Homo sapiens: one gene and its partners. The protein of the gene in region 2 purifies or fractionates together with the protein of the main gene of each other region. This does not show direct contact. Each region holds a gene or a part of one and is shown on either strand. Other genes may lie near its edges.

Region 1 (5,510 bases), on a different chromosome or scaffold from region 2:
TTGTGCCACTGCACTCCAGCCTGGGTGACAGACTAAGACCCTGTCTCCGAGAAAAAAAAAAAAAAAAAAAAAGATTAAAATGGCCCCTGCACAAGGATGACATGCAAATTCATCAAGCATTCCATATAAGAAAAATTCCTTTCACATACTATGATCAGTAGCGCTTAACTGAAATTACTGAAAATTACTTTCCCCTCAAGCATTCATTATACCCCCATTACTACCCCTCCTATAGTAGAGCTTCAAGCCAATACTAGCCTTTTCTGTAAGCAACATGAATATTGTTCAGATTTTCCAGGTACAAATCAGTAGACAAAACTTAATTTGTATAAAGGATTTTAGTGCATACAAACTGTCATCAAATAAGGTGCTTTTTAACCAGGTTAAATTTTATGATCATCCCTTTAATTCACTATTTACCAACCTCTTTCCTGCCAGGGCACACAGGAAATGAAACATTTTGCTGGATAAGCCACAGATGAAGGTACTAGTGGTGGAACTGGCTCATGGATACAGATTGCTGTGCAAAGCTCTATGCATTTACTGTTTTAATAATTACTCCAATAAAAGGATTTTTAAAAAGAGATCTTTTAACACATCCACTTACACAAGTGAGTTATATACACACAAAAACTAACTGGAAATACTTCTTCACATTTTCACTGTAACCATTTACTTGTCAAGGGAAGGCAAAATGAATATTCAAAGTCAAGGCTAAAGCTACAGTGTTAAACTCAAAGAAGGATGCAATTTAAGTGCTCTCTTGTATAAAGCATCAGAAAGTTAATACAAGTACTAGTCTTAAGCAGTCACACAAGTCTAAGCCACATTTATTTGCACATGTATAGTAATGGCCAACAGATACTCCAAGTTCATACAAATTTGTAAAACAACAAAGTTAATAATCACTTGGTACACTTGTGTGTTATCTTGCTTACATATTAAAACCTAGATGAACTTCCTTCATTTTGTGGACTTCCATACAATACTTCCTTAAACAAAATTCTTGAAAACACATATCAGCATGTTTAAGTTAGAGCCAACACAAAGTTAAGACAAGACACAAACTCAAAAACCAAGTTTGAAAGATACTTTTCTACCTCCCTCCCCTAGAAAGAAGTGATTTTCTTTAACAGATGTATGTTATATCACACAAGTAACCATGAAGACAAAAGAATGACGCTCCCATCATCAGGAAGAAAATGCCAACCAGATCATACTGTTTAGTTATCTACCGAACATATGGTTAAAATATGAGAAACGGGGGAAAATGCTTAGATTAAAATAACAAGGGAGAATAGAAAATAGCAAATGATTTTAAAGAGAACTGTTCCCCCTCAAAGCTGCAAAGCTCTGACTCTGACAACTAAAAACTGTCCAAGGCAAATAAAAACGAGGAAACCTTCAAAAACATTCTAATCACGTGCAGTATCTAGTGTTAAAAGCTGAAAATGATAAAGAGGATATTTATTATACAAGTGTCAACGAGGACATCCCAAAAATAATGAAATAAACACACATTTATTTCTACAAAAGCAATGTATGATACAGAATTAGAAGGGAACAGACTTAAAGATTTGCCTATTAAAATATACAGATTCTTACTGAAGAGTATAGGATATTTAAAAAAGATGACAAGGGATGTTAATCTTTTTTTATTATTATCATTTTTACATATTTTGGAACCTCACATAATTTTGATAAATAACTCTTACAAAATTATGCAAAAAGTACAAGAATGTCTGGTAAACAAACAGTCTGTATTTTCCAAAAAGATTTTTTACAACATGCAATTCTTAAGGCAGCATCCTCTTTACAAGGAAAGGTAATCCTTTTTTATCAAGAAATCTTCTGCTGCAAAGAATGGCTAAGAAAGCCTGGCTTCTTCCATTAACGCCTTTTGTCTTTCCTGTCTGATTTTCGGTCTCTTTCACTTCTTGAAGATCTTTTGCCTGATCGACTACTCTCTGATATAGACCTCTTTCTGTCGGACCGGGAATTCTTATCCTTTGATCCTTTTGTATCTCTACTACTACCACCTTTTGAAGATTTGTGACTTCTTTCTAGTCCTGAAGTATCCCTTCTCTTCCGATCCACGCTCCTTCTGTGCTTTCTATCTCTATTATGTCCCCGGCCCCTACTCCGACTTCTACTCTCACTACTACTACTAGTGCTACTGCTACTATCTCTGCTGCTGCTGCCACTTGTACTGGAGCTGCTACTGGAACTACTGCGACTGCTACTACTTCCACTGCTGGAACTACTTCCACTGCTGCTACTGGTTGAACTGCTACTAGAACTGCTACTGCTACTGCTTCGACTTCTACTCTTGCTTGTTTTATTTCTAGCTCGACCTCTACTTCTGCTCCTAGTTTTGGTTTTGCTCTTGCTCTCTGGATGTACTGTCAAGACTGGCTCTACTGGTACCTCAGTGAGTTTTACAGACTCTACAGGAAAATCCTTCCTCTCAGGTAGTAAATGCCCTTGCTCCTGAGTAACTTGGGGTGTTGGCTGTAAAACAGCTAATGACAAATCCTCAGGCTGAGAGGGAGGCTGGGACTGGAGTACTGGTTGGGACTGGGATTGAAGCTGAAGCTGGGGCTGAGACTGAGGCTGAGGTTGAGCCACAGGCTCAGGTTGGGGCTCAGATTCTTTTTCTTCTTTTTCCTCAGACTCCTTTTCCATGTCTAAAGCACTGACATTCTCTTTCCCAGGAGAAAGGGTTTTACATTCTTTATCTGGCTCAATTTCAAATTCCATTTCTGGTTCCAATTCTTTGCTAGCTTCATTTTCTGAAGGTTCTACACTTTCAACTCGATTAGTTTCCATTACCTCCTGGTCAGCAATTACATGTTTGACATTCTCAACCATCTCTAGCACATCCATAACTTCTTCAGGCTGACTATCCTGCTGCTTCTCACTTTCCCTTACCTCAGTTTCCTCCTCCATCTTAACCTCCATTTCCTGTTTTTGTTCTTCCTCCTCCTGTTCTTTCTCTGCATCACTATGAACAATCGCTATTTCCTTTTCCTCTTCCTCTCCTGCTTCCTCTATTTCTACATCATTGTGCTGATTACCTGTCTCCTCCAACTCTTCCTCTCGCTGAGCCACCTTACCCTCTTCTTGTTCCGCCTTCTGTTCTTCATTACGCACCACCTGATGCTCTTTTTCCTTCATTGATTGTCTTCTAGGCCTAGCCTCCATTTTATTTATTTGTTCTGCAAATTCGATGCGTCTACCTTCAAATAAAGCTAAAGAATAAAAATTTACATGTGTAAAATTTACCGATTAAGAAAATTCAAAGCCATAATTTTATAACTGGTCACAAATTGTCATTAAGCTTCATCTGAATTTGTTTTTGTAAAGTTATGACAAAAGATTATGGCAATTAAGTAACCACAAACTGACATAAAATTATAAAAGCAAAGATCCATGGGAAATCTACATACTAGAAATTGTGGCAGACAGAACTACACATTTTCTAACTGATGAAGAAAACAGATCAATCTTTATGTCTGATGAAAAATAAAACTTCTGTAAAACAGAACCAGTTTTGGCATAAAATCATATATATTAATTTTTCTGATCCCAAAGAGATAAATCATCATCTTAGCAGTGTCTATCCTTCCATGTGTTTTCCATCTAGAAACTGAGTTGGTTTTCACATTTGTCTTATTAGCATTTTATCAGAACAATAATAGCATGCAAAAAAAAGTAATTTTACACAAATGCTTAAGGAATACAGATGCATAAGCACTGTCTATAACTTTCACATTAAACTCCATCATGATACAAATATTCCTATACTACAAACTCACCAGCATCTCAGAATGTATCTTTTTTTTTTTTTTTGAGATGGAGTCTAGCTCTGTTGCCCAGGCTGGAGTTCAGTGGCGTAATCTCGGCTCACTGCAACTTCTGCCTCCCAGGTTCAAGTGATTCTCCTGCCTCAGCCTGCCAAGTAGCTGGAATTACAGGTGCCCACCACCATGCCCAGCTAATTTTTTTTGTATTTTTAGTAGAGACTAGAGACGGGGTTTCACCATGTTAGCCGGGATGGTCTCGATCTCCTGACCTCATGATCTGCCTGCCTCAGCCTCCCAAAGTGCTGGGATTACAGGCGTGAGCCACCACGCCCGGCCTAGAATATCTTATTATCTTATTTAAAAAAAAAAAGCAAACACAGCAAACCAATCACTGAATCATAATTATTTTAGAAAACAAACGTGTGCATATGAACATATTACCTTACCCACTATGAACAATTCAATGGACCTCTTCGCATACTTACCGTTCATTTTTCTCTGTGACTCTTCTATTAGTTTTTGGGTAGCTGGACACATTCTTCCAGGAATATAAAACAAATGGGGCTTTGTCTTAGTTCTTATATATTTAATTATTTTGGCATTATGTTCATTCCATTCTTCTTGCTAAAGAAAAGGTAAAGGGTCAGTGCTTTTGTAAACACAAAGGATTACCAATCTTAGAATTCCAAATTACCACTCACCAGCTGCGCAAGCTCAACTTTCTGTTCCAAAAGCCGCAGTTCTGTCTGTTTAGCACGCCTCTCTTCAAACAGTTCTCTCCTTTCATTTTCAACCTGCTTTCTCTCTTCTTCTGCCTGAACTTCAAGTTTTTGTTCAATTTCCTGGCGCCGCTTTTGCTAAAAGTTAAGTAGCCTGCTTTAATACTTACGTGTTGAAATAGTTACAACAAAAGGTATATATGATTTCAGTTCAATTATGATAAAAAGTTATTACACATACTAATTACGTGAAACATTAGAGGCAGGTAGATCATCTGAAGTCAGAAGCCAACACCACCATCTCTACTAAAAACACAAAAAAATTAACAGGGCGTGGTTGCACGCACCTATAATCCCAGCTACTTGGGAGGCCGAAGCAGGAGAAATCACTTGAACCCCAGAGGCGGAGGTTGCAGTGAGCTGAGATCACGCCACTACACTCCAGCCTGAGCAAGAAGAGCCAAACTCCATCTCAAAAAAAATTTTTTTTTTTTTTTTTTTTTTCACTATGTAAAGGTATCTGCAGGCCGGGCACAGTGGCTCACACCTGTCATCCCAGCACTCTGGGAGGCTGAGGTGGGTGGATTGCTTTGAGCTCAGACCAGCCTGGGCAACATGATAAAACCCCATCTCTACAAAAAAAAAGAAAAAGAAAAAAAAAAGGTATCTGCATATGCTTCACATTTTTTCTTTTTTTGAGATGGAGTTTTGCGCCTGTTGCCCAGGCTGGGGTACAATAGTGTGATCTTGGCTCATTGCAACCTCACCTCCAGGGTTCAAGTGATTCTCTTGCCTCCGCCTCCCAAATAGCTGGGGATTACAGGCGCATGCCACCACAGGCGGCTAATTTTGTATTTTTAGTAAAGACAGGGTTTCACCATGTTGGCCAGGCTGGTCTCGAAAAACTTCTGACCTCAGGTGATCCACCTGCCTCAGCCTCCCAAAGTGCTGGGATTACAGGCATGAGCCACTGCACCTGGCCGCT
Region 2 (7,043 bases):
GGAGAGCAGGGAGCAGAAGTTAGCTGGGACTCCCACTCCTCGGCAGAGCTGCCATCTTGAATCCTGCTGGTCACTCGCTCCCTTGGTCTTAAAGCAATGGAAGGGTGGCTCACATGGATGCCTCCTGGGTATTAGGAAATAACCATCACTGATAAATACAGACTGATAGTTTACCACATGCATGGTAAGTGTGGTAGTTTAAAATATTCTCGGCCAGGCGCGGTGGCTCACGCCTGTAATCCCAGCACTTTGGGAGTCCGAGGCGGGCGGATCACGAGGTCAGGAGATCAAGACCATCCTGGCTAACATGGTGAAATCCCATCTCTACTAAAAAATACAAAAAATTAGCCAGGCCTGGTGGCGGGCGCCTGCAGTCCCAGCTACTCGGCAGGCTGAGGCAGGAGAATGATGTGAACCCGGGAGGTGGAGCTTGTAGTAAGCCGAGATCGTGCCACTGCACTCCAGCCTAGGTGACAGAGCAAGACTCCGTCTCAAAAAAAAAAAAAAAAAAATTCTTACTTGTGTCTCCACAAACTATTTCAGCGTCCTAGAAGTTCTACCATGCCAACTGACATTTTCTGACCTGCCTCCAGCCACCAAGGCAGTGCCCAAATTCTTTGACTATGTATTCCACTTTTCACTTAAAAATATTGTCACTATATAAATCCCTTATTTTCTCACCTGAAACCATATATCAGACTGGGAAAATATCTGAATGCTCTACTCTGGGCCATTAATAAATACACAAATATGTAATACTTATCTTTTATTATCACTTATCAATAAACTGAGTAAAATAAATGTTTTCAGGGGAATTTCTCTCAGCCAGCCTTACCAGGGGATGATGGGAGAGGGGTGGGGAGGTGAACCGGCAACAACTATGGCCGGCGGCAGAGCAAGCTCTTTCCAAATGACTGCTGACCTAGGGCAGGGGAAAGGGAGTGGAGTGTGACAGAGGGTCTCACCCATGGGCTGAGAGAAAACAGGAGAGGAACCGACGTTCCTGAACTCCCCTTTTCTTCAGTCCCAACCTTGCTGCATCTGGCCCAAGGTTAGCTGAGTGCCATGCTACTTCCTTCACTGCCAACCCAGGCATCCTGGCCAGGCCCACCTGCTGTGGCCACCAACCACCTCTTTCACTTGGGGGATAGAAGAAGGGGAGGGAGGCAGCCTTCCTTCCTGTGGACCTACTTTCTTTCCCCGGGGTAAGAGGAAATGGGCTAGCAGTCCTTAAATCTTTATTTGGTAGTGCTGGAAAGTACTGTTTACCTGGCAGAAAGCTGGAATAGGGGAAGGCAAGGCCAGGAAGGCAAGAAGACAGAATGGCCCAGGTGTGGCTGGCGAAGGCCCACCATCCCTACCCAAATCACATCAGGGTTGGTGGGGGGGGGCACTTCTCCCTAGTGCTGCTGTGACCTGTCACAGACCCTCTCAACTTGTCCCACCCAGAAAGTACCTGGTCCTGTCTCTCATTCGCTTGTTCCCCACCTGAGCTCAGGTGGTGAGCATGGTGAGTGCTCAGGCTTGCATGGGAGGTTTACATTCATAGGTTTTAAGGAGTAGGGCCTCCAACTATAAAAACATAATATTAAACAGCCACTACAACTGAGGCATGTGTTTGAAAAAAGCTGGCTACAAAACTGTAGAGAGGATCAGATGTGGCCAGGCACGGTGGCTCACGCCTGTAATCCCAGCACTTTGGGAGGCTGGGGGGGGGGGACAATGGATCACAAGGTCAGGAGTTCAATACCAGCCTGGCCAAGATGGTGAAAACCCGTCTTTACTAAAACAAACAAACAAAATATATATATAATTATATTTTATATTATATATAAAATTAGCCAGGCGTGGTGGCTGACGCCTGTAATCCCAGCTACTTGGGAGGTTGAGGCAGAGAACTGCTTGAACCTGGGAGGCGGAGGTTGCAGTGAGCCGAGATCGCGCCTCTGCATTCCAGCCTGGGTGACAGGGTGAGACTCTATCTCAAAAAAAAAAAAAAAAAAAAAAAAGAGAGAGAGAGAGAGGATCAGATAATAACTGTCTAAAACAAGAGACCAAATCCTATGGTTGGAAAAAAAGAGGCCGGGCGTGGTGGCTCATGGCCTGTAATCCCAGCACTTTGGGAGGCTGAGGCGGGTGGATCACCTGAGGTCAGGAGTTCGAGACCAGCCTGGCCAACATGGTGAAATCCTGTCTCTACTAAAAATACAAAAATTAGCCAGGCGTGGTAGCATGTGCCTGTAATCCCAGCTACTTGGGAGGCTGAGTCAGGAGAATCACTTGAACCTGGAAGGCAGAGGTTGCAGTGAGCTGAGATCATGCCAGTGCACTCCAGCCTGGGCAACAGAGGGAGACTCCCATCTCAAAAAAAAAAAAAAAAAAAGAAAAAAAATAGACTGGCAAAAAATATGTAAAAATTCTAGCCTATGGGTGGTGGGGCTGTAGGTGGCTTTTCCCCCAATTTTATTTGACATTTTAATGTGAAAGGGATATAATTAAGTTGAAATTTTCTTTTTAAAGAAGGACGAACAAATTTGATAACTATTAACAGTGTACTGTGATCCCTTCCAGTCCCACCTTGGTGTACCTAAAAGCATACATATGACACATTTATTTGGAGATATGTAACCATACTACAAATATTGCTTGGCAACTTGCTTCTTTCATTTAACATCTCATTTATATTTTTCCACAGGAATATATACAGTCTACCTCATACTTTTTGACGACTTTATAATTAGTGTTCCACTGTGTGTACAAAACAAATCTCCTTACCCCAATATCGATAGACTTTGTTTCAAAAAATGTTCAGCCTCATGAGTATCTTACAGTCTTTCTGTGGGGGTAGATTTTCATAAGTGGAATTTCTGAGTCAAAGGACATGCGCAATTTGGTCAAACTGCTCTCAATAAGTTTGTGCCAATATACAAGTGTGCCTATGTCTTCCTTTACCAAAATTGAATATCATCAACCCTTTTAATTTTGCCAGTTGGATAGATTAAAAAATTATTTTATTAACAATGTTTTTTTCTTTTTCATGTCTTTTGGCTATTTGTATTTTTTGTGAATGAATTGCTCATATTCTTTATCCACTTTTTCTTTGGAAATTATATATATTGATATGAGGGTTCTATATACTGTATGTGTTATACATATTGCAAACATTTTCTTCTATCTATCTTTAAAAAAGCTTTTTTTTTCTTTTTGAGACAAGGTCTCACCCTGTTGCCCAGGCTGCAGTGCGGTGGCATGATCTTGCTCACTGCAAACTCTGCCCCACCTGGGCTCAAGCGATCCTCCCACCTCAGCCTCCTGAGTAACTGGGACTACAGGACGACAGCCACGTACCACCACGCCTGGCTAATTTTGTATTTTTTGTACAGACCAGGTCTCACTGTGTTGTTCAGGCTGGTCTTGAACTCCTGGCTCAAGTGATCTGCCTACCTTGGCATCCCAAAGTGTGGGATTACAGGTGTGAGCTATCGCACCCGGCCTAAAATTTTCATGTAGTTAAATCTATATCAATATATTATTTTCTGACTTTTTATTTCACTTCACTCTTAGGAAGGCTCTATTTTAAGATTATAAAACATTCTCTGCATTTTCTTCTACTACTTTAGATGTATACTCATTTTTATTTTTAGAAATTAAAAAACTCGGCCAGGCGCGGTGGCTCATGCCTGTAATCCCAGCACTCTGGGAGCCCAAGGTGGGTGGATCATGAGGTCAGGAGTTCAAGACCAGTCTGGCCAAGATGGTGAAACCCCGTCTCCACTAAAAATACAAAAATTAGCCTGACGTGGTGGCGGATGCCTGTAATCCCAGCTACTTGGGAGGCTGAGGCAGAGAACTGCTTGAACCCGGGAGGCAGAGGTTGCAGTGAGCCAAGATTGCGCGACTGGACTCCAGCCTGGGTGACAGAGTGAGACTCTGTCTCAACAACAACAAAAAAGAAATTAAAAAACTCTCAAAAATACAAAGTATAATACAATACACAACCCCATTCCTACCACAGGGTTTGTTAATGTACTGTCATGTTTGTAGTATAATTTATTTTAAGGAAATAAAATCATCACAGATAAAGGTAGTTTACCGTGATACCGCCTTCCAAGTTTCATTCCTCCCCAGGCCATCTGTCCCATGAATTTGGTGTGTACCTTCCTGTCATATTCAGGTATTTAATCTGCTGGAATTTACTTTTTGATTAGGTGTGAGGTGGGACTCTTGTTTTTCCCTAGATGAGCCAAATGTTCCAATATTATTTATAAAATAGTTCACCTGGTCAGGCACAGTGGCTCATGCCTGTAATCCCAGCACTTTGGGAAGCTGAGGTGGGTGGATCACCTCAGGTCAGGACAGGAGTTTAAGACCAGCCTGGCCAACACGGTGAAACCCCCATCTCTACAAAAATACAAAAATTAGCTGGGCATGATGGCAGGTGCCCAGCTACTCAGGAGGCTGAGGCAGGAGAATTGCTTGAACCCGGGAGGCGGAGGTTGTAGCAAGCTGAGATTGCGCCATTGCACTCCAGCCTGGGTGACACAGCGAGACTCTGTCTCGGAAAAAAAAAAAAAAAAAAGTTCACCTTTCTCCAGTATTAGAAATGCCCCCTTTAGGCCTGGCGCGGTGGCTCACGCCTCTAATCCCAGCATTTTGGGAGGCCGAGGCGGGCGGATCATGAGGTCAGGAGTTCGAGACCAGCCTGGCCAACACAGTGAAACCCTGTCTCTACTAAAAATACAAAAAATTAGCTGGGCGTGGTGGCGGGCGCCTGTAATCCCAGCTACTTGGGAGGCTGAGGCAGGAGAATGGCTTGAACCTGGGAAGCGGAGCTTGCAGTGAGCCGAGATCACACTACTGCACTCCAGCTTGGGCGACAGAATGAGACTCCATCCCCCACTTCGCCAAAAAAAAAAAAAAAAAAAAAAAAAAAGAAATGCCGCCTTTATAGCGATTTACCAGATCAACCGTTCTCAATGCTCTTTAATACGCTGGAGTTTCATACTAAGAAAAATAAACATAAAAACATTTTGGCCAGGCGCTGTGGCTCACGCCTGTAATCCCAACACTTTGGGAGGCTGAGGTGAGCAGATCACAAGGTCAAGAGATCGAGACCATCCTGGCTAACATGGTGAAACCCCGTGTCTACTAAAAATACAAAAAATTAGCCAGGCGTGGTGGCATACGCCTACAGTCCCTACGCCTATAGTCCCAGCTACTTGGGAGGCTGAGGCAGGAGAATCTCTTGAACCTGGGAGGTGGAGGTTGCAGTGAGCCGAGATTGTGCCACTGCACTCCAGCCTGGGCGACAGAATGAGACTCCTTTTCAAACAAAACAAAACAAAACAAAACAGAAAACAAAAACAAAACCAAAAGACATTCTGTGGGATGGGCACGGTGGCTCATGCCTATAATCCCAACATTTTGGGAGGCTGAGGTGGGTGGATCACTTGAGGTCAGGAGTTTGAGACCAGCCTGGCCAACATGTTGAAACCCCATCTCTACTAAAAACACAAAAATTAGGTCGGGCATGGTGGCTCATGCCTGTAATCCCAGCACTTTGGGAGGCCGAGGCAGGTGGATCATCTAAGGTCAGGAGTTCGAGAGCAGTCTGGCCAACATGGTGAAACCCCATCTCTATTAAAAATACAAAAGTTAGTCGGGCATGGTGGCAGGCTCCTGTAGTCCCGGCTACTCAGGAGGCTGAGGAAGGAGAATCACTTGAACCCAGGAGGCGGAGGTGGCAGTGAGTCAAGATACTGCCACTGCACTCCAGCCTGGGGAACAGAGGGAGACTCCGTCTCAAAAATAAATAAACAAATAAAAATTTAAAAATTAATAAATAAAAATAAAAAAATTAGCTGGGCATGGTGGTGTGTGCCTGTAATCTCAGCTACTTGGGAGGCTGAAGCAGGAGAATCGCTTGAACCCAGGAAGCAGAAGTTATAGTGAGCCGAGATCATGCCACTGCACTCCAGCCTGGGCGACAAAGCAAGACTCCGTCTCAAAAGGAAAAGAAAAAGGAAGCTGGAAGCTGAATGAGATGGGCCTTTCAACCAAGGAGTTAGAAGGCCATCTGGTGGCAGGGCTGGCAGAGGACCAGGAGTAAATAAGGCCAGAGAGGACACCAGGGTCTGGGAGTGAAGGCACTGAGCTTGGGTCCCCCTTTGGAAGACAATGACCTGAGAGCTGTGAGATTTCAGACAAGTTCCCGAACCTTTTGGGCCCTGCTTTCCTCATCTGTAAATGGGATAATATCAGTCTCACCAGCTTCTTAAAATTCAATACAATGGAGTTGGGTGTGGTGGCTCACGCCTCTAGTCCCGGCACTTTGGGAAGCCGAGGTGGGCAGACTGTTTGAACTCAGGAGATGCAGAACAGCCTGGATAACATAGCAAAACAGTCTCTACCAAAAATACAAACAATTAGCTGGGCATGGTGGTGTGTGCTTGTAGTCCCAGCTACTAGGGAGGCTGAGGTGGGAGGACTGCTTGAGCCCACGAGGTAGAGGCTGCAGTGAGCCATGATTGCACCACTGCACTCCAGGCTGGGAGACAGAATGAGACCCTGTCTCAAAACAAACAAGCAAACAAACAATAAAGGAAATCCCTACCACACTATCAGGGGCATTTTGGCTGAGCGCGGTGGCTCACGCCTGTAATCCCAGCACTTTGGGAGGCTAGGCTGGCAGGTCACCTGAGGTCGGGAGTTTGAGACCAGCCTGACCAACACGGAGAAACCGTCTCTACCAAAAATACAAAATTAGCCGGGCGTGATGGTGCATGCCTGTAATCCCAGCTACTTGGGAGGCTGAGGCAGGAGAATCTCTTGAACCCAGGAGGCAGAGGTTGAGGTGGGCTGAAATCGCGCCATTGCACTCTAGCCTGGGCAACAACAGGGAAACTCCATCTCAAAAAAACAAAACAAAACAAAAAACAAAACTCCCATTTTTGCGAGGCAAATTGGGCTCACAGAGGTAAGCTGCATGTCCCTGTTGATGGCAGAGCTGGGGTCTGGATGCAGGTCTGCTTCGGGGTAATCCG
Region 3 (3,003 bases), on a different chromosome or scaffold from region 2:
GTGGCGGAATCAAGGTTTGCCTCAGTGTCCTGTGCTCAACAGATCCTCCTGCCTCAGCCTTCTTAGTAGTAGCTGGGACTACAGGCATGTGTCACCATGCCCAGCCCCATGGGTCTTTGTTTTCTGCTAGTAACTTCAAAAGGGGACATGCAGTGTAACTCACCTGAGTCCCAAGTTAAGGCTATGGTAGCAGCTGAGCAGACAAGACAGCTTTTCCTAAATAAATGAATGCAGAATGGGGACCCCTCCCTCCTCCCCATGGGAGATGGGCAGCTCAGACACTCAGAAGGTTGTGTGGGAGCGAGCAAACAAACACCCATGCACACCTGGGTCCCGTCAGTCAGATGCAGGGGACAGGAAGTGCCCTGCCATCTACTGGATGCCAGAAGACAAGACGTGACCCACGAGTAAGTCACGGTTTCTGTGAGGTGCTGGTGGCACTGGCACAGGGTCACAGTGAAAAGCCTCTACGCAGAGGACAGCAGAAACCCCCCGCAGCCTCAGGAGGCAGCATCAGATTTATTTATTCCTACTCAACATGACCCGGGAACACAGGAGCAACTCTGTACACTTCTAGAAACTCACAGCTAGCTCCAAAACAATAGAAATTTTAAACTACAAAAGATGAGTTGTATTCAGCAAATATAAAGGGTAATTTTAGACTGTGTGAACGTTTATCAGACTATTTACAGCACCCGGGAGACGGGTTCAGATCTCGCCGGCCTCCTTCTCTTCTGACCTCCGTGAAGCCATCTTCCCGTTGGAGCTCTCAAGCCTCCAGTCCGGGGGCCCTCGCTCGCTCCGCCCGCTCTCCCAGGACTCCTCTCTGGATGCCCGCTCTCTGGAGAACCTGGGAAATGGGAACCAGAGGCTCAGTGGAGGCTGCTGCCCCCCTTCTGCTGGCCGCTCAGGCACTGACGATGGACCCGCAGACCAGGCCAGGCAAGGCCCTACATCCCCTATACCTGGAAACCCCCCGGAGGCCAACCAGACTTGCCCACCACATATGGAGTGTTAGATAGCCATTAAAAAGTGACCTTTGCGAAGATTTTTAATAAGGAGAGCCTTCACTGTAACATAAACAGTGCAAAGGAGAATACAACACTATATGCACAGAACATGACACTACGTAAAAACACAATGGAAAAAAAAATATCAAAAACAAAAACCAAAACAGAGGTAAGCAGGGCCTGGTCAGGACACAAGTCTCAGCCACTCTGAGCATGGACGCAACAGTGCACAGGCCCCAGGACGCAGGCAGGGGACAGTGCCTGTGCAGCCCATCACCTGGCGCCGTGCGAGCTCCTCCACAGCCCTCTCGCCTCTTCCCACACCTGAGTCCCGTTCACGACTCCCCAGCCCTACTCCTGAGGGTGAGCCCAGCCCCATCCCCACCAGACACGGCCCTCAGCAGACCCTGGGAACACAGAGAAGGGCTCACTCCTGGTTGCAGCTACCGAAGGAGTCAGAGTAGTTACTTGTATTTCGCACTTCGGTCCCGGGAAGCCCGACGATGTCCCCGGCTGTGGCTCCGGGAACGGCTGCGGTGGCGCCGATGTCTATCTCGGGACCGGGACCGGGACAATTTCCGTCGCTCTCGGGAGGTAGATCTTGACCGCCTCCGACGCCGATCCCGGGAGCGTGACCTGAACAATCAGAAGGCTCCAAGGCTGAGACTCTATAGGTGCCAACACTATGAGGGCCCCACCCCTCAGCAGATTCTGCTTGCTGCTTTACTGACATTTTCTCCTTTACTCCCACAAATTTAGGTTTAAAATATTTCCATCAGTTAATCTCCAATGGCTAGGTCCTTCCAATGAGGTCTCCTGAAAACATGTGGCCTGGATACTCCTGTCACCCTGCAGGCCCCGACCTTCCCTCTCATTAACACTGGGAACCCTCCACGGCACCAAGCAACCTCTTGCCCTGTGCCCTTCACAAGCCAGCCCTACCTGCCAGGTAACATTTGTAAAGGCATAATCATTAAATATTAAGAAAAATGCTTATGGAAAAAAAAATTTGAGAACATTTTAATGGACCTGGAAACCTACCTCCTGCGATCTCTGGTTCTTGATCCCGACCTAAAAGGGGGAAAAAAAGATGAACAAGGCCAGGCATGGTGGCTCACACCTGTAATCCCAGCACTTCGGGGAGGCCTAGGCAGGCAATCACCTGAGGTCACGAGCTGGAGACCAGCCTGGACAACGTGGTGAAACCCCGTCTCTACTGAGAACACAAAACCTGGCCAGGCGTGGTGGCGGGTGCCTGTAATCCCAGCTACTCAGGAGACTGAGGCAGGAAAATCACTTTAACCTAGGAGGCAGAGGTTGCAGTGAGCTGAGATTGTGCCACTGCACTCCAGCCTGGGCAACAAGAATAAAACTTTGTCTCAAAAAGAAAAAAAAAAAGTGAATGACTTCCCGAAAGCACCCCTATTCCTCACCCTCTTGGGGGAGGACTCCAAATTTAAGAAGTGAGGCACCTCCCCCAAAGACCTGCTGTTTTCAAGCTGCCTGCATGTTCCCAGTCTGAATGGGAAGTGCCAATGCTCCCATCCCCACAGCCACTCTGTGGCACACTCAGTGTCACCTGAGCCTCACAGACAGGCCCACATCCGAGCATCAGACGCAGCCCTGTAACATTACAAGGGCCGTGAAAAGTCTGTGCACACTGACTGTGCTGCACTCAAGTCCTACAAATGATTCTCCAGTCTTTACAACAGACACCAGCACAGAATGTGCAGACAGCGAGTGGGGCACACCAAAAACACAGAAAAGGAAAAGCAAAGCCCGAAGTTCCAGGCACAGGCTTCCTGTCAGGTGAGAGTCATCAGCTCATTCTGCCACACAACCAAGAGGCTGAAAAAGGCAAGCTATGAGGCCTCATTCTATGCCCGTAAGCCATTAAGGTCAAGTGGCCCCATGTACATCCGCAACACAAATGGCCTAAACATGACAGTGCATGTAAAAATGTAAACTCCATGCAAAAAATGGATTGTGTGTT
Region 4 (7,043 bases), on a different chromosome or scaffold from region 2:
AAAAGCATTTTAAGCCATAACTTATTTCAAATGAATAGGAAAAATAATGACTTTTGCTTACATCATGCAGCAATAAGCATTCATTTGTTATTCAGAAGAAAATTGTATGCAGTGTGTTTATAGTTAACATCTTGAGGCAAATGTTCACTTAAATTCACAATGTCTCCATTGGCCTTTCACCAAAAGAGAAATATACTTTAAAAGCTTACTTCAATTTGCTCATTAAGTATGATTTAGCCTTTTCTACCATATTATATTTGGTAACTACATTTGGAAGAATATCACACAAAGCTTCTTAAAACATTGGTAAACATTTTGAGATGTCTTTATCAAGCAACCGTATCAGCAGAGAAAAGATAAACTCTTAAGACTTTCTTTTTTGCCCCAAATTATGTGTCAGAAAGGAAAATATATCCCACTTCTCTCCTTGTAGACATCACAAGATTCTTTTGCATTAAATGTGGAGCAAAAAAGTAAAGCTGGATAAAAGAGACACAATGATTCTAAGGCACCCTTAGCATAGGGAATTTCAAAATAGACATTTACAGTTGGCTGCTTACAACATAGTTTAACTTTTTTTGGTGAGAATCACTCTGACATCTGTTAACAGCATAAAAAGGCTGACTTTCTTTTCCATAAGTATGTTGTTTCCAACTAGTTTCCAGTCTTTCTTCCATGCCCAAAGTTCAGGCAAGCCTAGGTAATCCTGTCTTAGCCAATGGACAGGATGTATTTGGAAATGACAAAAATGGGTTTAAATTAGGAAGCAAAGTACTTTGTTATAGCTGAAATGGTTTTAAATGAAGCAAATGGTTGTAAATAATGAATGACAGAACATCTATTTTGGGACATTATGGCTTAAAATGCTATTTACTTTTAACTTCACAAATAAACACAGCTGTATTGTTTTGAAAAGCAATGAAAGGCATGCACCTCTACTAGCAGATTTAGCACTTCTGACCAAGTAAGACACCAACTTCTTTAAAAATATGCTTCATGCACTGTACTGGATTTTTTTAAGATGTAAATTTTAATACATTATTTCTTTTTTGAACTTGAACGGGAACCAGAATGGGATGATCCAGATGATGACCTGTGGCGTCTGTAAGACATAATGGAGAGAGTAGGCATTCTAGTAAGCTAGAGCTAAATCTCAGCATTCATTCTTAAGACTGTGAAAGTATACAAAATTCAGTACCATGATGCTAGCAAAAAAATTAAAAATTGAGATAGGAACTTACACACATAAAATTATCTGATGTTTAGACTTTGGATATGAGCCCAGTTATCATATAAATACAATAAAAAATTCTCTACAATTTCAAAAGAATCTCATTTCAAAATATAGCCACCTCTCAATTATTTAAGATATCAAAGAAAAGCCTTGCAAAAATGTGTAAAATTACAGAAAATGTACAACAAAAGCATATAAACTTGGTAATGGAAGTGTGACTAAACCAATCCCTGTGACACGGTGTAGAAAGTGTAAGAAGTCTATTATGTAAAAAAGATACAGCAAGGCTTCTGTGTATGAGAAAATATACTCATAAATAAGTTTTGGAAATCTAGGTCACACAAGATGATTGTACAATTTGCTATAGGGTTATATTCATGCAGCTAGTATGAATAAGTCAATATCAACCTGGGTAAAGTAGTGGTGTTCCGTAGGGGTTGGCCCTGGGCTCAGGGTTGTTTAGTGTTTTCACCAATCACCTGGCTTATGGAATAGAGAACATGTTCATTAAGTTTAGATGACAACAAACTAGGGGGATTATATGTGGCTAAGATAAAAATTTGCAGAAGTGGTAAGAAAGCAACAGAATGAATTCCACTCAAAAACAGAGTAATTTTTTTTACAAAGAAACAAATGCAGAGAAACAAGACTGTGTGAAATCTTAACATCTAAACTCCAAAATGTGAAGAAGCAAAACTAATCATTCTGTACAAGTAGGAATCATGAGATAATCCTACCACTGAACCCAGCAATTAATAGACTTTACATAATCTTTATTTTCACAAGCTAATAAAATATGAAAAATTTGCAAAGACTACAAATAAAGCCATTAAAATGACTATATAATTGGGAACAAAGAGAAAATTAATGAAACTGAGTAATTAGCCTGTTGCAGAAAAGGCTGACAGATGACAGTTGCATTCTTCCAATATTAAAAGTGTCAGTACAGATAAAGTAACCTAATATAGGCCTTTCTCAAAAAAGATTTGGACTGCAAAATGAAAAATGTATTAGCTACAAGGAATAATTTCCTTATAGACAAAGGGCATGAAGCAATTTGCTGTGGAAATGCATTTACACATATTTAAATGAGGACAGATTCCCAATGATCTGAAAGTTAATTTTTTATTAGATGCTCTAGAATTCTTGACTATTAGTATTTAAAGAAGCCTAAGTATAAAAGTCAACTCATAAATTACTTCGACATACAGCTTCTGAATTGCAATCTCAAAAGACAGAAATAACCGAGAGTTGGCTATAAAAATTATAAATGGAACTAAAAATTTAAACAATAAAATGATCAAAGAATGGTTTGATCTACAATTCTAAACAACCTGATCAAAGTACAAAGGATAAGCAAAGTAATGTTTTTTTGAAGTTCAAAGTTGAAAAGTAGAAAGTCGGAACACAAGAGATAATAAAAATCTAACCCTTGACTAGGAAAGTTTACTTTATCTATTAAACACACTTAAGAACACCCATTCTTATTTCTACAGAAACCCAAACCTTTCGGGTGACCGTGATCTTGTTCGTCTTTTTTTGCGATCACCAGATGAAGAAGATCTAGAACGACTTCTCTTTCTGTTCCTCTCAGGAGAAGATGATGAACTTGAATAAGATCTTTTTCGTGGGGAAGAAGAGCCCCTGTGGGACCTGGAGCTGGATCTTCATTGATTGAGAAACAAATCAAACATTTCATTAAAAGAAGAAATAAGGAAGATTATTTAGTTATCAGATAGCTCCAAAAATAAACAGGATTTATAACAACTATGAAAATTTTATAAGGAAGAATACTTACTGCTTATTCAACAGAAGACTTCTGGATCAACCATGAAAACATTCTACTTAAACATTTTAATTTTGTCTCTTTAAAATTCTATCATGTGTAATTAAAACCCTGCTTACTATATCAAAATAGAATTTAAACTTTTTTTAAGGCTTTTCAAAGTATACACAAATATTATAGTATTATAAAATCAGCAGATAACTGCATTAACAGGACTTTACGTTTAGGAACTACATCCTTCCATTTGAGGATTAAAATATGTATCTTATATACCACTTCCTGAGGAAAATAAACATAATTCCATGTGGAATTATTCAACTCATTAAACTGTTATGGAAAAACCAGGTATATGGCACAGCAACAAAAGACTAGTAACTGTACTTAACTGCTAAATATTCAAGAAGAAATAAAAACTAACTTTAAGATGATTTATATTTACAATACTATTTTTATGAAAACCCACTACTTATGAAATATGAAGTGTTGACATTCACATGCTTCAGGTAGAAGTAAATGTGCAAATGTTTAAATACAAATTTTTTTTCTTCACTTGTATATTTTGGTTGAAGGAATTTAGCTCAAACTTCCCAAAAAATTCACCTTTGGGCTTAAAATAAAACCAGAAAGCCCAAAAGGAGAATTCTTTGGAAAGTTACAAGCAATGAAAAAATGTTTGGGAAGAATATGATGGGTGTTCTGTAAACCTTAATTATAATGGTTCCCAAAGGGAATACCAGAACTTAAGGATTTTTACCTATAAAGCGCTTAAATATTGTTACTAAATAATGGTAACAATAAAAAATAATTTGCTCTCTACTTCTATTTTTTTTTTTTTTTTTGAGACAGGATCTTGCTCTGTTCCCCAGGCTGTGGTGCAGTAGCATAAGCATGGCTCACTGCACCCTTAATCTCCAGGGCTCCAGTGATCCTTCCACCTCAGCCTATAAGAACACACCACCATGCCTGGCTGGTTGTTTTAATTTTTATTTTTAGTAGACGAGGTCTCACTATATTGCCCAGGCTGGTCTTGAACTCCTGGGCTCAAGCAGCCCGCCCACCTTGGCCTCCCAAGGTATTGGGATTACAGGCGTGAGCCACTGAGCCTGGCCTTGTTATCTATTTCTTATTGGCTTATAATGCAAGTGTGCACAACATTCTTTTCTCCTTAACATGATTATACTGTGGCAGCCCTTTAATGCTAAATTTGATTCAAAGCAGCAAATACTTTTACCAAAACAGCCACAGTTAGACTTCAATATGAATTTCCACAAATATGGAATTTCATTTTCTTATTTATTTTTTAGATGCCTTTAGGTCATAATAAATTAACTTAAAAACAAAGAGAGCATATTTTGACTAAACAAAGAAAAATTTCCTGCAAGAGCATCTTTCAAATTATGTTTCCCTCTACAGATGTGACTACATGCAACCTGAAACTTTAGAACACTGTTTACTACTTAAGACCACATCCTATCTCAACTAACCGACTATACTTCCTGATTTAGTTTTGAGTGTTTTGTGCTCTATAAATAATAGCGTGTGTAAAATTAGAAAGGAAAATGTATATACAGTACTCTAGTAACTTTATCTGATATAAATGGCAAATTTGTTTCTGAAAATATTGAAACAACTGCCGTGCAAAACAGGACCTGTTTTGAGGCAGGGTTATTTTTCTTCCTTTTAATAATGAAGAAAATTTTTCTTTTTATTTACATATGTAATTTTATTTGAACTACTATTAATTTTTTTTTTTTTTGAGACACTCCTCTGTCACCCAGGCTGGATTACAGTGCTGTGATCAAGGTTCACTACAACCTTGAACTCCTGGCCTCAAGTGATCCTCCCACCTCAGCTTCCCAAAGTGCTGGGATTATAGGCATGAATCACTGTGCCTGGCCATATATAATCTTAATATACTAGAGATGTGGCGATAAGACTTGGCTTCATCTTCCTACTTCATAACATCTTAGTGCCAAAATAATAAACGCTGCATATTGCAAAATAGCCACCTGATTTCAATCATGGGAATGTCTTGGCACACTGCTGGCAATGGAAACATTTCATGGTGAGAAAATTAAGCTGAGGCAAGTGCATTAGTTTTCTAATGCTAAAATAAAATCGACAAGTAGAAGCAAAATAAGGGGAAAAAAAGCAGCAACACCTTCTGCAGCCTTTAAATATTTTTCTCTCTGCTTTACAGAGAGATGCTACCTCATTCACCTTGATTTCGACCCACGAGATCTCGAACGTTCTCTGGAACTGGAACGAGATCTTGACTGCGAACTGGAAGAACTTCTTGAACGGGACCTGGAACAACATGGAACGATTTTTTTTTTCCAGGACCATTTAATTGAGCTTTGTGATATGAACACTGAAAGAAAGATATGTATTAGAGTTCATTTTCATATAAAAAGATAACTATACAAGATATATACTTTCAAAACATAGTATTTTAAATTAGATAAGATTTAGTAACAAAAGGTAATTAAAAAAATATCACTTTCCAGGTGATTAAATTACCCTAAAGCCACTCAACTATAAAACAAAACATTATCACTTTATTACAAAAACAATGAATACTTTGTTTACAAGTAACTAGAAGCTACCCAGAATACATCCAAGAAAACAGAATGTTGCGATTTATACTTAATTTCTCTAAAATGTCTCCATCATTTTCCTTTATAAATCCCCTTCTATTTTTGTTTCTAGTTAGTACAAAGTTTTGAATGTTGGCATGTGTGTATTTCATCCCTATATTTTTCTGTTTACTCAATGCTTAGAGAATTAAAGGGAAAATGTATAATTCTGTCATTGTTAGGTAATTATATTATTGGAAAATATGACACAAGGGAGACATGGTTCGTACAAATTTTAAAACTCACAAAATTCATTAATCTAATTTACAACTATAATTTGTCCCTTATAATAATACCCTGTAGAAAAAGATCACTATATTTTTACCAAAAAATTACTAGTTATAGCCCCACTTTGTTAAGCTTTCAGGCTTTGTAGTGCTCAATTAACATATATCTAATTGTTATACACTAATATCTAGTATTTTATTCCTAAATATGATTAAAATTCATTGCCCATGCCATCACTTAACTGTGATTAAGGTTTTTCAAGAGGACACTGTTAAATTTAAATCACTGCTTTCACTCACCTAAAATTTTATTTTTATTGTTAACTATAAAATCAGAGATTACATATTTTACATCAACAAACAATATTCAAGTACACCAAAAGAGTTTTAGTTTACGCCTGGACTTCTCAAAATTATGAGCATGAAGTCAACAGAACTAATATGGCTGAATTTGCTCCGTTATTCACAATACTGATATCAAAGCAAACTATTAAAAACATTATGTAATAAGCAATGATTTAATGCCTAGAAAATTTCTGTGCTAGCCTTTAACATCTTGAATGAAAATACAGATCTCCCCTTTACTTAATTTCTATATGTAAGCTATCTCTTTAGATTAATTAAATATAAGTGTATATAAAAATTTAATTCAGTTTTTAAGTCTATTTTAGTCAAAAGCATGAGGCTAAAATAGGTTAAGGAAGTTTCATGCTAAGACTTTACTTTTCTAAAAATACTGGACAACAACTGTATGGTACTAAGCTGAAAAATTATTTTAAAAGTTGATTTGAATTAAATTTTTAAAATAAAAAGGAAAGTTTATTTCGTCAAGAAAAACAAAATTTATAAATAAAAAAGTTAGATACTGACATTTTGACTGGTGTTACCCTTGACCTGTACCCGTTTACCTGGACCTAGACCTTGAACTTGAGGGGGAGGATGAGCGTGATGAAGATCGTGAATGTGAAGATCGAGACTTTGAGCGACTTCGTCTATTAGATTTCTTTTTATTACTATCTTCTTCTTCACTGGCATCAAGATTATATTTTGAGAGATCAGCGTCATCTTCATCCTCATCCTAACAAAAATTCAATTATAATTAGACATTTAGATATTAGTGTTACCTACCAGGAAAGATAAAACAGTTAGGTGTACTGAGC

What was found.
Region 1: the proteins of NFKBIL1 (region 2) and PNN purify together in Homo sapiens (affinity purification with mass spectrometry; 2 studies listed by BioGRID and IntAct, with this or other methods). This does not show direct contact.
Region 3: the proteins of NFKBIL1 (region 2) and LUC7L purify together in Homo sapiens (affinity purification with mass spectrometry; 4 studies listed by BioGRID and IntAct, with this or other methods). This does not show direct contact.
Region 4: the proteins of NFKBIL1 (region 2) and ZRANB2 purify together in Homo sapiens (affinity purification with mass spectrometry; 3 studies listed by BioGRID and IntAct, with this or other methods). This does not show direct contact.

What each region holds. Positions count from the first base shown.
Region 1 is NC_000014.9:39,178,244-39,183,753, reverse strand, and holds the end of PNN (pinin), read right to left. Parts: intron 4,664-5,510; coding exon 4,508-4,663; intron 4,431-4,507; coding exon 4,292-4,430; intron 3,252-4,291; coding exon 1,891-3,251; 3' UTR 534-1,890; downstream 1-533. UniProt on the Homo sapiens protein: Transcriptional activator binding to the E-box 1 core sequence of the E-cadherin promoter gene; the core-binding sequence is 5'CAGGTG-3'. Capable of reversing CTBP1-mediated transcription repression.
Region 2 is NC_000006.12:31,550,576-31,557,618, reverse strand, and holds part of NFKBIL1 (NF-kappa-B inhibitor-like protein 1), read right to left. Parts: intron 1-7,043. UniProt on the Homo sapiens protein: Involved in the regulation of innate immune response. Acts as negative regulator of Toll-like receptor and interferon-regulatory factor (IRF) signaling pathways.
Region 3 is NC_000016.10:188,490-191,492, forward strand, and holds the end of LUC7L (putative RNA-binding protein Luc7-like 1), read right to left. Parts: intron 2,082-3,003; coding exon 2,052-2,081; intron 1,647-2,051; coding exon 1,479-1,646; coding exon of another isoform or gene 1,475-1,478; exon of another isoform or gene 851-1,474; coding exon 709-850; 3' UTR 501-708; downstream 1-500. UniProt on the Homo sapiens protein: May bind to RNA via its Arg/Ser-rich domain.
Region 4 is NC_000001.11:71,064,036-71,071,078, forward strand, and holds part of ZRANB2 (zinc finger Ran-binding domain-containing protein 2), read right to left. Parts: intron 6,962-7,043; coding exon 6,792-6,961; intron 5,328-6,791; coding exon 5,241-5,327; intron 3,682-5,240; exon of another isoform or gene 3,596-3,681; intron 3,150-3,595; exon of another isoform or gene 2,900-3,149; coding exon 2,741-2,899; exon of another isoform or gene 2,731-2,740; intron 1,718-2,730; coding exon of another isoform or gene 1,684-1,717; exon of another isoform or gene 1,103-1,683; coding exon 1,039-1,102; 3' UTR 1-1,038. UniProt on the Homo sapiens protein: Splice factor required for alternative splicing of TRA2B/SFRS10 transcripts. Binds to ssRNA containing the consensus sequence 5'-AGGUAA-3'. May interfere with constitutive 5'-splice site selection.